2 linked regions of the Homo sapiens genome follow. The protein of the gene in region 1 interacts with the protein of each later gene in a pairwise test. Each region holds a gene or a part of one and is shown in the gene's direction. Other genes may lie near its edges.

Region 1 (7,045 bases):
TGCAAGAAGTTGCTCTTAAGTCAATTTTAAAATCTTACATATAGTTGTCAATGAGGATGTGGTGGTGGCTCTTTTACTCAGATTAGATGCTCTCTTCTGTTAACTTTTGACTTTCCTGAGCAGCATCTTTAGGGAGAGAGAGCCGAAAAGAATTCAGAAAAACTGTAGAAAAAATTGATTCCAGCCAAGTGAGGAGGTGAAGTCTCACTCTGGAATATGCAAGTTTCCAAGATATGGCTACCTCTCTCAAACATGGTTACATGTGGAAAGGAAACAAGACTCATGGAGAGTTCATTTTTTATTTGAAGAGCTATGAAACATGAAGAATGGCAGATTATAGATTTTTTAAGAAATCAGGTTGTTGCAGTTAGATTTTAAGCATAAACAGTCAACCAAGTTTACCAAATTTTATTAACCCGTAATATGCTCTGATATTTTGTGTTTTTTTCTTTCTTTATTTTATTATTATTATTTTGTTTGTTAAGATTTGAATTGTTGGCCGGGCGCAGTGGCTAATGCCTGTAATCCCAGCACTTTGGGAGGCCGAGGAGGGTGGATCACTTGAGGTCAGGAGTTCAAGACCAGCCTGGCCAACTTGGTGAAACCCCATCTCTACTAAAAATATAAAAATTAGCCAGGCATAGTGACAGGCTCCTGTAGTCCCAGCTACTCTGGAGGCTGAGGCAGAAAAATCGCTTGAACCCGGGAGACGGAGGTTGCAGTGAGCTGAGATCGTACCACTGCATGCCAGCCTGGGCGACAGAGCGAGACTTCCTCTTGAAACAAAGATTTGAATTGTTGAGAGCCATAGGACTGTAAATATAGCTGTGGTTTCACATTTTAGTATGTTGTAAAATTTGTACTTATGCAAGGAAATAACACTGAAATCTTACTCATTCTTAACAGGGTGGAAGAATGAAAGAAAAGAAAGATGAAAGGATGTTGAATCACTTTGCATGGCTGTATGATGGAAGGAAACGGAACTGAGAACTCCTGCAGTAGAACACGTGGATGGCTTCAACAAGATAATGATGCTAAGCCATGGCTTTGGAAATTCTCTAATTGCTTTTCTCGTCCTGAGCAGACGCTGCCACATAGTCCCCAAACGGTAACTATATGCAAGACTAAGGATGTAGCAGATTCCTCATCCAAATAGATGAGAGAGGTCCATTTGGTCTGGGATACAGTCTCTCATCCTAGAGTCTGTGCCACATTTTTCTGTAGATCTTGCCTGTATTGCCTCTTATACCACATTATAATGTGAGAGCACAGCACAATTTTTTAACTCTTCTATTTCACTTTGAGTAACAGTAGATGCCTTGAATATTTAATGTTAAAATTTGGGAAAGATTTCTTCCTCATTAAAGTCACAGGTAACAAAGATTAAAAATCCACATTGTGGAGTAAAATCAGAGGAAAATACAAAATATGTTGTATTTTACTGTAGCCCTCTTGAGTTTTGAGTCTATAATCTAGGAAGGGTTGGGAAGAGCTTATCCACTGCCTGTTTTTTATTTCGAGATTTCTCTTGAATATTTACTTCTCAGTATACATTTATGTCTCTAACTTCTTGCTTACTCATTGTGATTTTGACATTTTCTTTTTTTTTTTTGAGGTGCAGTCTTGCTCTGTGGCCCAGGCTGGAGTGCAGTGGTGCGATCTCGGCTCATTGCAACCTCTGCCTCCCAGGTTTAAGCAGTTCTCCTGCCTCAGCCTCCTCAGTAGCTGGGATTACAGGCCTGTGCTGCCATGCCTGGCTAATTTTTGTATTTTTAGTGGAGACGAGGTTTCGCCATGTTGGCCAGGCTGGTCTTGACCTCCTGACCTCAAGTGATCCTCCCGCCTCAGCCTCCCAAAGTGCTGGGATTACAGGCGTGAGCCACCGCGTCCAGCCAATTTTGACATTTCCTGACTTCATGCACTCATGTTACCACCTTTCTATTTCTTATTTTCTATTGTATGTGGGATTCAAGTGAGACTGTAATATAATTTTATATAAGGGTATTAACAACTTTTATTTGATTTTATTTTTTGAGACAGAGTCTCGGCTCAGCCCCCTAGGCTGGAGTGCAGTGGCACGATCCGGGTTCACTGCAACCACTGTCCCTAGTTCAAGGGATTCTCCCGTCTCAGCCTCCCTAGTAGCTGGGTTTACAGGCACTCGCCATTATGCCTGGCTAATTTTTGTATTTTAGTAGAGATGGGGTTTCACCGTGTTGGCCAGGCTGGTCTTGAACTTCTGACCTTAGGTGATCCACCCGCCTCGGCCTCCCAAGTGCTAGGATTACAGGCGTGAGCCACCGCGCCTGGCCGGGTATTAATAACTTTTTAAAAACCAGTTTAATTCTCTATTTTCTCTAGGTTTTCACTATATAGTTGTCTTTGTTGCAAGACATCAAGTAATTTGGGTCATTTTAGGAGTGTTTTATTTTAGAGACAGTTGACAGTGAGGGTTGGCATCAAAAGCAAGGCTTCCTGGGATGGGGTGGTAGATCTGGTCCTCATGGAGTCACACAATTCAGAATTACACGGTCAACTTTACAGATCTTGAAACTCAATTTTGTCAGTGGCATGCAGAATGGAGTAGGTTCAGGGGATCAACTCATAGTAAGCCTGCCTGTATGAGCCTGATCTGTATAAATCAGAATACCAGTGTGTTAATTTCAGTCTGAACTATAATTACCAAGAGGGCAGTTCATTGGCTGGTCAGCCCGTTGCTGTTATCTCCCTTTTAGGGAAAGTTTAGCTGAAAATTCACATTTCTTCCAGATGAGCCTATGCTCCCAGGTGAGTGTAGAATCACAGCAAAGGGAGTGGAATTTTAGGCGTCAGATGGACCCTCATATGCTGTGAACGGTGAGCACGTCTCAGTCACTGTAGCAGGGCCCCCTCTTCATCTTAATGTCTCTTGCAGTCAGCCTGTGAAGGCTGATGAATTCAGTCCCCTTTCAGTGGCTAGGTACTGTGCCAGGTGGTCTATGTGCTCTATCTTATTTTATCCTCCTAGCAACTCTAGGAGGTATATTGTATTCCCAGTTTATGGATGAGGAAACCAAAGTGTAGGTTAAGTAACTTACCCAAGGTCATACAACTATTGAGTATCAGATTCTAACCCAGGTCTCTGCCACTGATGCTCTGCTCAGAACCTTTGTAATATACTGGCTTCCTGTGTCTGTGTTGGAGTCATGTGGCAAACTATTTGTCTTGGATCTTTTTCTTGGATAGTTTTCTAATTCTCTAAATCTTTTCACTGGCTGCAATATAATTGTCATTATGGCTTTAGGTCATGATATCTTAGGGTTTATGAAATGTCATCAGCAACACGGATGGGCCATCTGGGTAGATGGCTGATCTCATCTGTGTTTGAAACTTTACTCTTTTCCTTTGGGGGATCTTACTAAAACCCCTTATGGCCTGACCACAGAACTATTAAGTATTGTCCTCAAACCACTGTGTGTGTTAGCCATCTTTATTGAATGCTGTTTGTGAGGGGTTGTTTTCATACCACCTATTTTGTCTTCAGAAGATTCTGTGAGGCAAGGGGAAATTACCAAAAGGAAGTTACTGAGGCATGGTGGCTGCTAAAGATGTAAACAGGCCCTCCCACCCCAGTCTGTTTCAATTCAGGAAGAATGTAGTCTTAATTTTAGTTGTGTGTTCCAGTGTTCATGTCCTGCAGACCTCTCTGAAGAATGTTCCTGGTTTTAACTAGCTGTGATTCCATTTTGTTCAGTTATGATTTAGTGATGTAACAGAATTGAACACTATTTCTGTTTGTGCATGCAGTAAGATATGAGTAACCAAAAAACCACGGACCTCATAAAATTAATTTATGTTCTGATTTTCTTTTCTCAGAAAGAGTACATGGAGAACAAGAAAGTTGCTGTGGAACTAAAGGATGTACCATCACCCCTTCATGCTGGCTCTAAGCTTTTTCCAGCAGTCCCACTTCCTGATATTCGTTCTCTTCAGCAGCCTAAAATACAGCTTTCTTCTGTCCCCAAAGTAAGCTGCTGTGCTCATTGCCCTAATGAACCCTCCACTTCGCCAATGCGTTTTGGTGGTGGTGGTGGCGGTAGCGGAGGTACCAGTAGCTTGATTCACCCGGGCGCACTGTTAGACTCGCAAAGCACCAGGACAATCACGTGTCAGGTAGGGTCAGGGTTTGCTTTCCAGTCTGCATCTTCACTCCAGAATGCCTCAGCTAGGAACAATTTGGCAGGCATTGCAAGTGACTTTCCCAGCATGTGTCTAGAGAGTAACCTGTCTTCCTGCAAACACCTGCCCTGTTGTGGAAAACTCCACTTCCAGTCATGTCATGGTAATGTGCACAAGCTGCATCAGTTTCCGAGTCTGCAGGGCTGCACCTCCGCTGGCTATTTCCCCTGTTCTGATTTCACAAGCGGGGCTCCAGGGCATTTGGAAGAGCACATTTCACAGTCGGAGCTAACGCCTCACTTGTGCACCAACTCTTTGCACCTTAATGTGGTACCTCCGGTTTGTTTAAAGGGCTCACTTTACTGCGAAGACTGTCTAAACAAGGTTCGTATCTTTTTATTTCTTAAGTTGGGTGCAGCTGAGGATTGAGGAATGACTTTTGAAGTGGATTTATCTTGAAAAGTATTATACATGGGGTTGAAGATTCTCCCATGGTATAGGGGAATCTCCCCATCAGCATAATTTTTGCTGGTTCTGAAAGAAACAAAGGGTAAGATGGGAGATCATTCAAAAAAGTAGAGAGTCATTATTTTTGTAGTTTATACTTTTAGAGCCTCTTGTTGCAAACAAGAGGTTGGCAAAGCCTTCGTGTTCTATGTTTAAAGGCTAAAGCACGATGGATTTTTTATAACTTACATTCAGCTTACACATGGGCCCATTCATGTAAGGTAGATAACTGCATGTTGTCTTTTTGCAATAATGTGGGAAACCTGAAGCTTGGCCTCAGTCACATTGGTGTTCAAGTGAGACTTTGCTACCCTTTATGTAAAATATGTGTGAGGTCTTCGTTGCAGCAGACTCATGCCCCAGAATGTAAAGATCTGACCACGTGAATATCTTTCTTGATCATGTCAAGTCACTTCTGGAAATGAATTTATGAACTGATAGCTAATGGTTCTTGGAAAGATTATTTGAAAGTCCTTTTTATTAGAGGCTAGCAAGTGGAAAGGTAAAACACTTAGAGTGTATTTTCAGTTGTTGTATATAACTCCAGCTTCTGAAATGATGTATCTGACACCTCCTCCTTTTTAAAAAAAATTTAAAACAGCCAGCAAGAAATAGCATAATCGATGCGGCTAAAGTCTGGCCAAATATACCACCTCCAAATACTCAACCTGCACCTCTTGCTGTCCCTCTGTGTAATGGCTGTGGAACCAAAGGAACAGGGAAGGAGACCACGTTGTTATTGGCGACCAGTCTAGGCAAAGCTGCTTCAAAATTTGGTAAATGACAGTATGGCATAAAATGTGCATATTTAAATAGCTTTCAATATCTCATACTAACATTGCATTTAATCACCTTTGAAGGATTCCTTATGGTTCTAAAGCTACTGTGTATGTGAGTCTCCAATTCCATATCTTGGTAGAAATCTTTTTATTATTATGGACCAGGAAGTCATTTGCCCTTTATGTTGGGCCGAGGCTATACACAGAAGCTGTGTATAGAAAAATTGGTAGTATATCAGGAGAAATAAAAGTGCTGGAAAAGACTTGGTGTCACCTTAGGTTGGAAATCACACTTGTTGATGGTATACTCCCTAGAAGTGCTTAGAACAATTTACTAATGGCTGATTAAAAACAGTATTTGAAAACCAAAGAGTTCTCAGTTAAAATAATTTCCCTAAAAAGTAGTTAATGCGACGTTTTGAAAACATTTTTAAAATATTAAATCAGATGTTAATGCAGCGTTAACTCAAAATCAACGACAGTAACAGCTTCACCCTTTGTCAGCTCCTCAGTGTTGGTTACTACCAAGTAGGTAGATAAGTGTGGGCTAAGCTTGAAAGTCGGGTCCTGGAGCTGCAGTATCCGGTCAGTTAGTGTGCTTGTGTTCAGAGAAGCATCACTGCTTAATGTCAGAGTGGCTCATGCTTGGAGGTGGATTTATTGTGGGCTTAAAGTTACTTGACTTTTAGATTTGTCTTCTCCTGAAAAACAGAAATAATCTCTTAGAGTGATACTTTTTGACAGCTTGATTGCTTATTAGGTCAACCAGTGAGGTTGGTAGCCTTAAAACTTGGCATTCATTAATAATTTAGTTTTTCTACCACTGAGAATGATAGGTAGTTTATTATCTTATTGTAACTTGCCATTTATTTTCCACTACAAGTAATTGAAAATGTTAACATTTCTTAAGGGTCACCAGAAGTTGCAGTAGCTGGACAGGTGCTAGAAAACTTACCCCCCATTGGAGTTTTTTGGGATATTGAAAACTGCTCCGTTCCCTCTGGCCGGTCAGCAACTGCTGTTGTGCAAAGAATCCGTGAGAAGTTTTTTAAAGGCCACAGAGAAGCAGAATTCATCTGTGTATGTGACATCAGTAAAGAAAACAAGGAAGTTATTCAAGAGCTGAATAATTGCCAGGTAAAAAAAAAAAATTTAATAATTTTAATCTACAGTAGAGGAATAAGCAGATATTTGTTTGTTTGTTTGTTTTGAGACAGAGTCTAAGTGTCACCCAGGCTGGAGTGCAGTGACGCATTCATGGCTCCCTGCAGCCTCGAACCCTGGGACCCCAGTGATCCTCCCACCTCAGCCTCCCAACTAGCCAGGATCACAGATGCACGCCATCATGCTCGGCTCATTTTTTATTTTTTGTAGAGACGAGGTCTCCCTATGTTCCAACCAGAAACAGAAACTAAGAACCCATGACTGTATTCTGTCCCTTGGACACCCCTGGATGGCTTTCAGGATCCAGGGTTAGGTGGTGGAGGCTTGTCTCAAACTCCTGGGATCAAGCAGTCCTCTTGCCTTGGCCTCTAAAAGTGCTGTACGTGTGTGTGTGTGTGTGTGTGTGTGTGTGTGGTGTTTTTTTTTTTTTTAGAATT
Region 2 (7,045 bases), on another chromosome or scaffold:
GGCCCCCAGCTTATCGCCAGCTATAGTAGGGCATATATGGGTATATTTATGCTCCCCTAAACATACTCCTGTTATCCTCTCTGGATCTTTTGTTCCTGAGGTAGAGACCATGCTGTTGGTCTTCAGATCACCTCTGCCACCTGACTGCCAACTCAGGTCTCAGCTCACTGCTAGATACCTCCACCCACAGCCTGCAGTCAGGGTTGGGTGACTGGCATCCCTTGTGTCCCAGTTGAGGCAGTGGGAACAGGAGGGGTGGAGCCGGCTGCTGTTGTGATGATCATGTGCTGCCTTCCTGCGTTGGAGTGTTCCACTTGCCCATTGTTGGAGGCGAGGAGACTGTGCCACTGAGGCACCTGTGCCAGCCCCCACCCGAAGAAGGACGCCATGTGCGTCTTCTAACCCTCCTCCTCTTCCCGCCTGTAGGTCCCGCAGGCTCCCGATGGCGAGATTACGGCGCCCTGGCCATCATCATGGCAGGCATTGCATTTGGCTTTCACCAGCTCTACAAGGTGAGTCACCCCCAGCGGCTGCAGGTGCTGTGCCCCTGCCACCCTGTGGCATTCAGCACCCTTTCACTGGTTCCCCTGCATGGAGGCACTGCCGTGCTCTGCCCTGGAGTGTGTTGGCAGTGAGAGGCTGTGGTAGAGGTCGGGGTTCACAGCTGGATCCAGGCAGACCCTGCCCTGCTGTGGGGCTTGGCAGGCTCTGCCCACCTTTTCTCCAGTGCTCAGCATATACCACCCAGATCTCCACTTGCAGGGGCGTCGTGAGGTCTGTCCCTTGCCAGCCCATGTCAGGCACTTACAGTAGTGCCCGCACGGGGAAGCCGTGCGAGCAGTTTTGAGACACAGAATAACATAATGGCGAAGAGCATGGACGCTGGGCCAGCTGCTTTGCTGAGCCCTGGCTCTGCCCCTCAGGAGCTTGGTGATCACAGGCTCTGGTCTGTAAAATGGGAATAACAGTCCCCACTTCACAAGGTTGTCGTGAAGTCCGGAAGAGTCAGTCTCCCTTGTAGAGGACTCAGAGCCATGCCCGGCACATGGAAGTGCTTTATACACCATTGTTCTGCCACAGCATTTAAGAGCGGCGGTGAGAACCTCAGTGTCATCAGATGTATGGGAGCTGTTCTTTTTGCTCTGTCTGTTGTGCTGCCATCTATAGAAATCTAGGATTTCCCAGGCTTCTCAAGTCAACTTTCAGGATCCCAGGTTCATTGCTTGCAACAGAACTGCAGGCATGACGTGAACATTGACTCCCTTGTGAAGGCCCAACTTGGACGTGAAGCAAATGAGTCTAGAGTCTAGAAAATGCAGGCCAGGGTAGGTGCCCAGTCCAGATCTTGGGACCCTGTAGAGAAGCCTCTTTTCTTTCGAGGCTGCCAGCTCCTCCACCCCTGATTGGTGATTTTTTTTTTTTTTTTTTTGAGATGGAGTCTCGCTCTGTCACCTAGGCCGGAGTGCAGTGGCATGATCTCGGCTCACTGCAAGCTCCGCCTCCTGAGTTCAAGCAATTCTCCTGTCTCAGCTTCCTGAGTAGCTGGGATTATAGGCGTGCTGGTGCATGCCTGGCTAATTTTTGTACTTTTAGTAGAGATGGGGTTTCACTGTTGGCCAGGCCGGTCTCGAACTCCTGACCTCAGGTGATCCGCCCACCTCGGCCTCCCAAAGTGCCAGGATTACAGGCTTGAGCCACCGTGCCCGGCTGGTGATTTTCTTTTTTAAACAACCTGAATGAGCACTCAGACTCGCCATGGTCACTCTTAGCACATGAAACATGGTCAGCCATGGTATTCCAGATTCTTCATTTTTGATGTAATACAAAAGCTAATGACAGTTGTAGCAGAATATAATTTTTTAAGTGTAGCATGTATTCCTGGAGCTGGACATTTCCATGTTAGAAATTGAGAAACAAGGGCTGGGCGCGGTGGCTCACGCCTGTAATCCCAGCACTTTGGGAGGCTGAGGCTGAGGATCCTGACTTGATCACGAGGTCAGTAGATCGAGACCATCCTGGCTAACACGGTGAAACCCCGACTCTACTAAAAATACAAAAAATTAGCCCAGCATGGCGGCGGGCACCTGCAGTCCCAGCTACTGGGGAGGCTGAGGCAGGAGAATGGGGTGAACCTGGGAGGCGGAGCTTGCAGTAAGCCAAGATCATGCCACTGCACTCTAGCCTGGGTGACAGAGCAAGACTCCTTCTCAAAAAAGAAAAAGAAAAAGAAAAAGAAATTGAGAAACAAAACATCCTGGGTTGGCCCAGGTGCCGTGGCTCACACCTCTAATCCCAGTACTTTGGGAGGCCAGGGCAGGCAGATTGCTTGAGCCCAGAAGTTTGATATTAGCCTGGCCAACATGGTGAAACTGTGTCTCTACCAAACAATAAAATAAAATAAAATAAAATAAAATAAAATAAAATAAATAAGCTAGGCATGGTGGTGTGAGCCTGTAGTCCCAGCTATACTCGGGAGGCTGAGGGTGGTGGGAGGATCACTTGGGCTCGGGAGGTGGAGGTTGCAGTGAACTGAGATCACACTACTGCACTCCAGCCTCGGCAACAGAAGGAGACCCTGTCTCAATTTAAAAAACAAAATAAGCCAGGCGCAGTGGCTCATGCCTGTAATCCCAGGACTTTGGGAGGCTGAGGTGGGCGGATCACTTGAGGTCAGGAGTTTGAGACCAGCCTGGCCAACAAGGTGAAACCCTGTCTCTACTGATAATACAAAAATTAGCTGGGTGTCATGGCGTGCACCTGTAATCCCAGCTACTTGGGAGGCTGAGGCAGGAGAATCACTTGAGCCTGGGAGGCATAGGTTGCAGTGAGCCTGCAGTGAGCCGAGATTGTGCCACTGCACTCCAGCGTGGGTGAAAGAGCGAGACTTTGTCTCAAATAAATACATAAATAAACAGAACAGAACAAAAACACCTCTTGGGACCCGGTTCTTCTCCCTCTGAACTGGTGCCCCCTTCAAATCACTGACTGTATACAAGCACCAAGAAGAATGTGACACGAACGCCAGAGTCCTCAGATGAATGCCCTGGCTGTAATGAGCAGTAGGCACTGTCACATGGCCACCCATGGAGGGCCTGTGGCCTGACGGGAGCGGGAGGGCAGCTCGGCAGCCCGCCTTAGCGTGGGCACTCACACGGAGCTGCCACTTGTAGTTTCTACGAAGCTCTGGGCTCTCCGCTCTGTTTTAAAAAGAAAAGAAACATTGCAATATCAGTCACAATGGTAACAAGAGAATTTCTAAAGCATCTGCTCAGTTTCTCGAAATTAAAAAAAAAAAAAAAAAGAAATGGTAAAAAGCCCTCGACTGGCTTTATAAGCACGTGAAGACTTTGGCTAGGGCAGCGTGTCTGCTCCTGCCCTTAGGACTTCTGATCTCAGAAATGGGGTGTTTAGTTGGTTACACACACATATATGAATTCTTTTTTTTTTTTTTTTTTTTTTGAGACACAGTCTAACTCTGTTACCCGGGCTGGAGTGCAGTGGCATGATCTCTGCTCACTGCAGCCTCTGCCTCCCGGGTTCAAGCGATTCTCCAGCCACAGCCTCCCGAGGAGCTGGGATTACAGGCATGCGCCACCACACTCAGCTAATCTTTATATTTTTAGTAGAGACGGAGTTTCACTGTGTTGGCCAGGCTGGTCTCGAACGCCTGACCTCATGATCTGCCCACCTCAGCCTCCCAAAGTGCTGGGATTACAAGCGTGAGCCACCGCGCCCGGCCAAGAATTCTTTACCTTTCTTGCTGAGGACATTTCATCCTGAAGTGTAAGGCTACCTTTGATGAGTTTTGGCTCAGTTGTGGGTAATAGCTCACACTGTGGTTGAAAAGCACTTTGCAAAATAGAAAATGCGTCTATACATGTGCTGCTGAAGAATGATCTTCACTTAGGAGTCACTCTGGAAATGAGTTCCCACAAACCCCTTGTGAGAGAGCTTCTTTTCCTTCCCTGGTACAGAAACCGTAATGGAGAAGTTTCCGTCCTCTTTCCTATCTGGGCCCAGATAGATTAAGAACCAAAGTTATCCCCGGGCAGCTCCTGCCAGGCTTGCACTGCACTGCCTCTGGCAGTGCCCACTGAAGGGGGCAGCGGGTCTCACTCCTCACCTGGGGGGCTTTGTCTCCATGTCCCGAGTGGCTGGACGTCAGTGCACATGTTCCTACACGCAGCTGTCCCTGCAGGCCCCACCACCCACCTCCACCCCTCCACACCCTCACCTCCAAGGCAACCAAGAGCACCAGTTGCCAGCCCTGCCCTGCCTGCCCCCTTCCTGAACGGCTCCTTCGGGCATCCCTGGTTCTAGGCCCCTGTGAGGGGTGGCCCTGCCGCATTCACTTTCTTTTTCCCCAGAGCCAGTTTCTTCTGGTCCTGCGCCTTCCTCTCCCTTCTGCCTTGTGTTTCCTTCTGGGGAACTCGACTTCTTTTGACTCTTACGTGAAGGAAGTTTGTTCTGAGGATTCAGGCTTCATTTAGAAAAAGACTGAGGTGACCTCTTCCAGCAGCCTCAGAGCGCACATGTTATCCCCTGGCGAGAGAACCAAGGGTCCCAGAAATGTGTTGTTGATTTTCCTTTAGTTTCTCCAGCGATGTTTTGTTTATTAATTTACTCGTTTGTTTCTGAATAGGTGATTCACTCACAGGTTCAAAATGTTCACAATTCAGGAGAACATGCCGGGAAGAGCTGCCCCGCCTCCCTCGCCTCCTGGAGGCTCCAGCATTATCTGTTGCTTGTGTGTCCATCCACATTTATATCTTACAACTTTGACAGTAGAGTTTATAACTTTGTGTTACAGAAATAGTGTAGCATCACTAAGAAAAGTAAATAAAGGAACCAAAAAGTTCCCATCACAGCAGATCCAGCTGACTCTCCCTGTCCACGTTCCCTCCTGGTCCTTGTCCTTATTCAGGCAGAATTTTTACGTGGTTGTAATCGCAGTCTCATAACTTTTTCAAATATCTTGTTCATTTATGGTGTTTGCTTAGGGTTTCCAAAACCCAGGGATGACAGGGAGAAAGTTGGGCGGCAGAATTTGAGAGATTGTTGGAGGATAACCCCGGGTCCGTATGCATTCCTCACCCTGTCCCGCTTCTTGCAGAAATACCTGCTCCCCCTCATCCTGGGCGGCCGAGAGGACAGAAAGCAGCTGGAGAGGATGGAGGCCGGTCTCTCTGAGCTGAGTGGCAGCGTGGCCCAGACAGGTAAAGATTAATGACTCCATCAAGTCACCCCTCACAGCCTTCTCCAAGCAGCCCCTTCTCTGCCCCTCCCCTCTCCCTCTGTCTCCACTCTATGTGGTGACTTCATTTATCTGCTCTGAGAATCTGTTCACATTTGCAAATGAAGCCGCCGTCATTTCGGTTTAATTTGAAATTGCTTGTTTACTGTCGGCGCGGCCTCAATTAATTATGTTTTTACGGAAAGGCTCCCAACCTCAGAATATTAATAAGGGGAATAAAATGACAGCCTTTCTAAGGGCTGTAAAGTTCATTTTTAATTTCTGCTTCTATGAGGTTTTCAGGGGGGTTTTCAGTGATTTTCCCCCTTCCCTCTAAGACTCGACTGTGGGGTCAAGAGAGTCTGTAATTACTGTGGCTCCCGGGACCCCAGCCACCTCCCCTGTTATCGACTCAACAGGGCTCGCGTTCATTACCCAGTGCCCCAGCGATGGCCCAGATTAGCTGGGACCTGTCGCGCCAGAGGTGGCTTCTCTTCTTTATAAACTTGTTTACTAGACGGCAGCTCTGAATCTAAAAACCAGAGCAAGGCCAATGAGAGAGCCACCTGTCCCAGGCAGGAGTCTGTGTCCCTCTGGAGCACGTTTGTGAAGCTCACAGAAACCCTCTGACACGTCCATCCTGCTGCCGTTTGCTCCTGCGAGGCTGACATTGGTGGCAACAAGGTCCTGAGGGGTCACGGGACACCAGGGAGTTGAGCAGGCAGCTTGGGTCAGGTGGGGAGGGTGGGAAGGAGCAGTGGGAAACAGGACGTGCGGCTTGAGCCACTCCTGGATGTGAATGTGGCGGGGACCTGAGATGCATCTCTCCCAGCATTGGAGACCCCAGGAGTTTCACAAGGACACTGAGGCCCAGGAGATGAAGGACGCAGGCGCCAGAGAAGCCGGGAGAGCTCAGCAAATCATAGCCAGCTCTAATTAGAGGGGAGAGGTTCTGGACGGATATACTGTTGACCATGGACAACTACACAATGGAAAGATAAAGTAGAAATACTAGAGGTTAGATACAGTGCAGGCAGATCACCCAGAGTGCAGATAAATTAGATGGATTGCGGGGGCTGGGGGTGTCTGCAGATAAATTAGATGGAGCGGGAACACGGGCAGCTCCGAGGTGTGCGGACCGAGCGAGGGGAACGTCTGTGCCTGTGAATTTGCCAGCGCCGTGACTGCTTTCTCCTCGCAGTGACTCAGTTACAGACGACCCTCGCCTCCGTCCAGGAGCTGCTGATTCAGCAGCAGCAGAAGATCCAGGAGCTTGCCCACGAGCTGGCCGCTGCCAAGGTACCTGTCTCTGCTGCACAGGGCCCTCCAGGCCCAGGTCTGTCCCATGTGCCCTTCACTCTTGTCCCTTGGGCCGGGCTTGCCACCTTCGGGAGCTGGACTTTGCCCCAGTCTCACAGTGGTTACACAGCCGTGGCCGATGCTGCCCTTTCTCTCCTTGTAGAGACAGGAGGCTGTTGCTGGGCAGTCAGTGTGACGTTTAACTGTCGAGGCCATCCTTTCTCTCTCTATGTCACCTCCCAACAGGAGGAAGGAAAAGCTACCCTCTGCCTGTGGAGATCTCATGGCAGCCACATCCCCGCAGCTCTGGAGGCTTTCTGTGTAGACATGGGACGGTCTCTACCTATAAGTTAGGTTGCAGGTCACAGCATGGCCAGGAGGGGTTCTGGAACAGACAGGGGAGAAGCGAGTCGCAGTCAGTTCACCAGCACCAGCCCCATCCACACCGCAGTGCAGCGGGCAGGTTCTCTAGACTCAGGTTCCATGGGTTCTGGCAATCCTAGGGAGCCAGAA

The links. Proteins that work in one complex are often made in the same cells at the same time.
Region 2: the proteins of MARF1 (region 1) and PEX14 interact in binary tests that used the Homo sapiens proteins (3 or more experiments, as listed by UniProt).

What each region holds. Positions count from the first base shown.
Region 1 is NC_000016.10:15,633,153-15,640,197, reverse strand, and holds part of MARF1 (meiosis regulator and mRNA stability factor 1), read left to right. Parts: intron 1-906; 5' UTR 907-964; coding exon 965-1,108; intron 1,109-3,855; coding exon 3,856-4,542; exon of another isoform or gene 4,543-4,692; intron 4,693-5,266; coding exon 5,267-5,441; intron 5,442-5,938; exon of another isoform or gene 5,939-6,188; intron 6,189-6,354; coding exon 6,355-6,581; intron 6,582-7,045.
Region 2 is NC_000001.11:10,617,906-10,624,950, forward strand, and holds part of PEX14 (peroxisomal membrane protein PEX14), read left to right. Parts: intron 1-426; coding exon 427-512; intron 513-5,113; coding exon 5,114-5,216; intron 5,217-6,434; coding exon 6,435-6,532; intron 6,533-7,045. UniProt on the Homo sapiens protein: Component of the PEX13-PEX14 docking complex, a translocon channel that specifically mediates the import of peroxisomal cargo proteins bound to PEX5 receptor.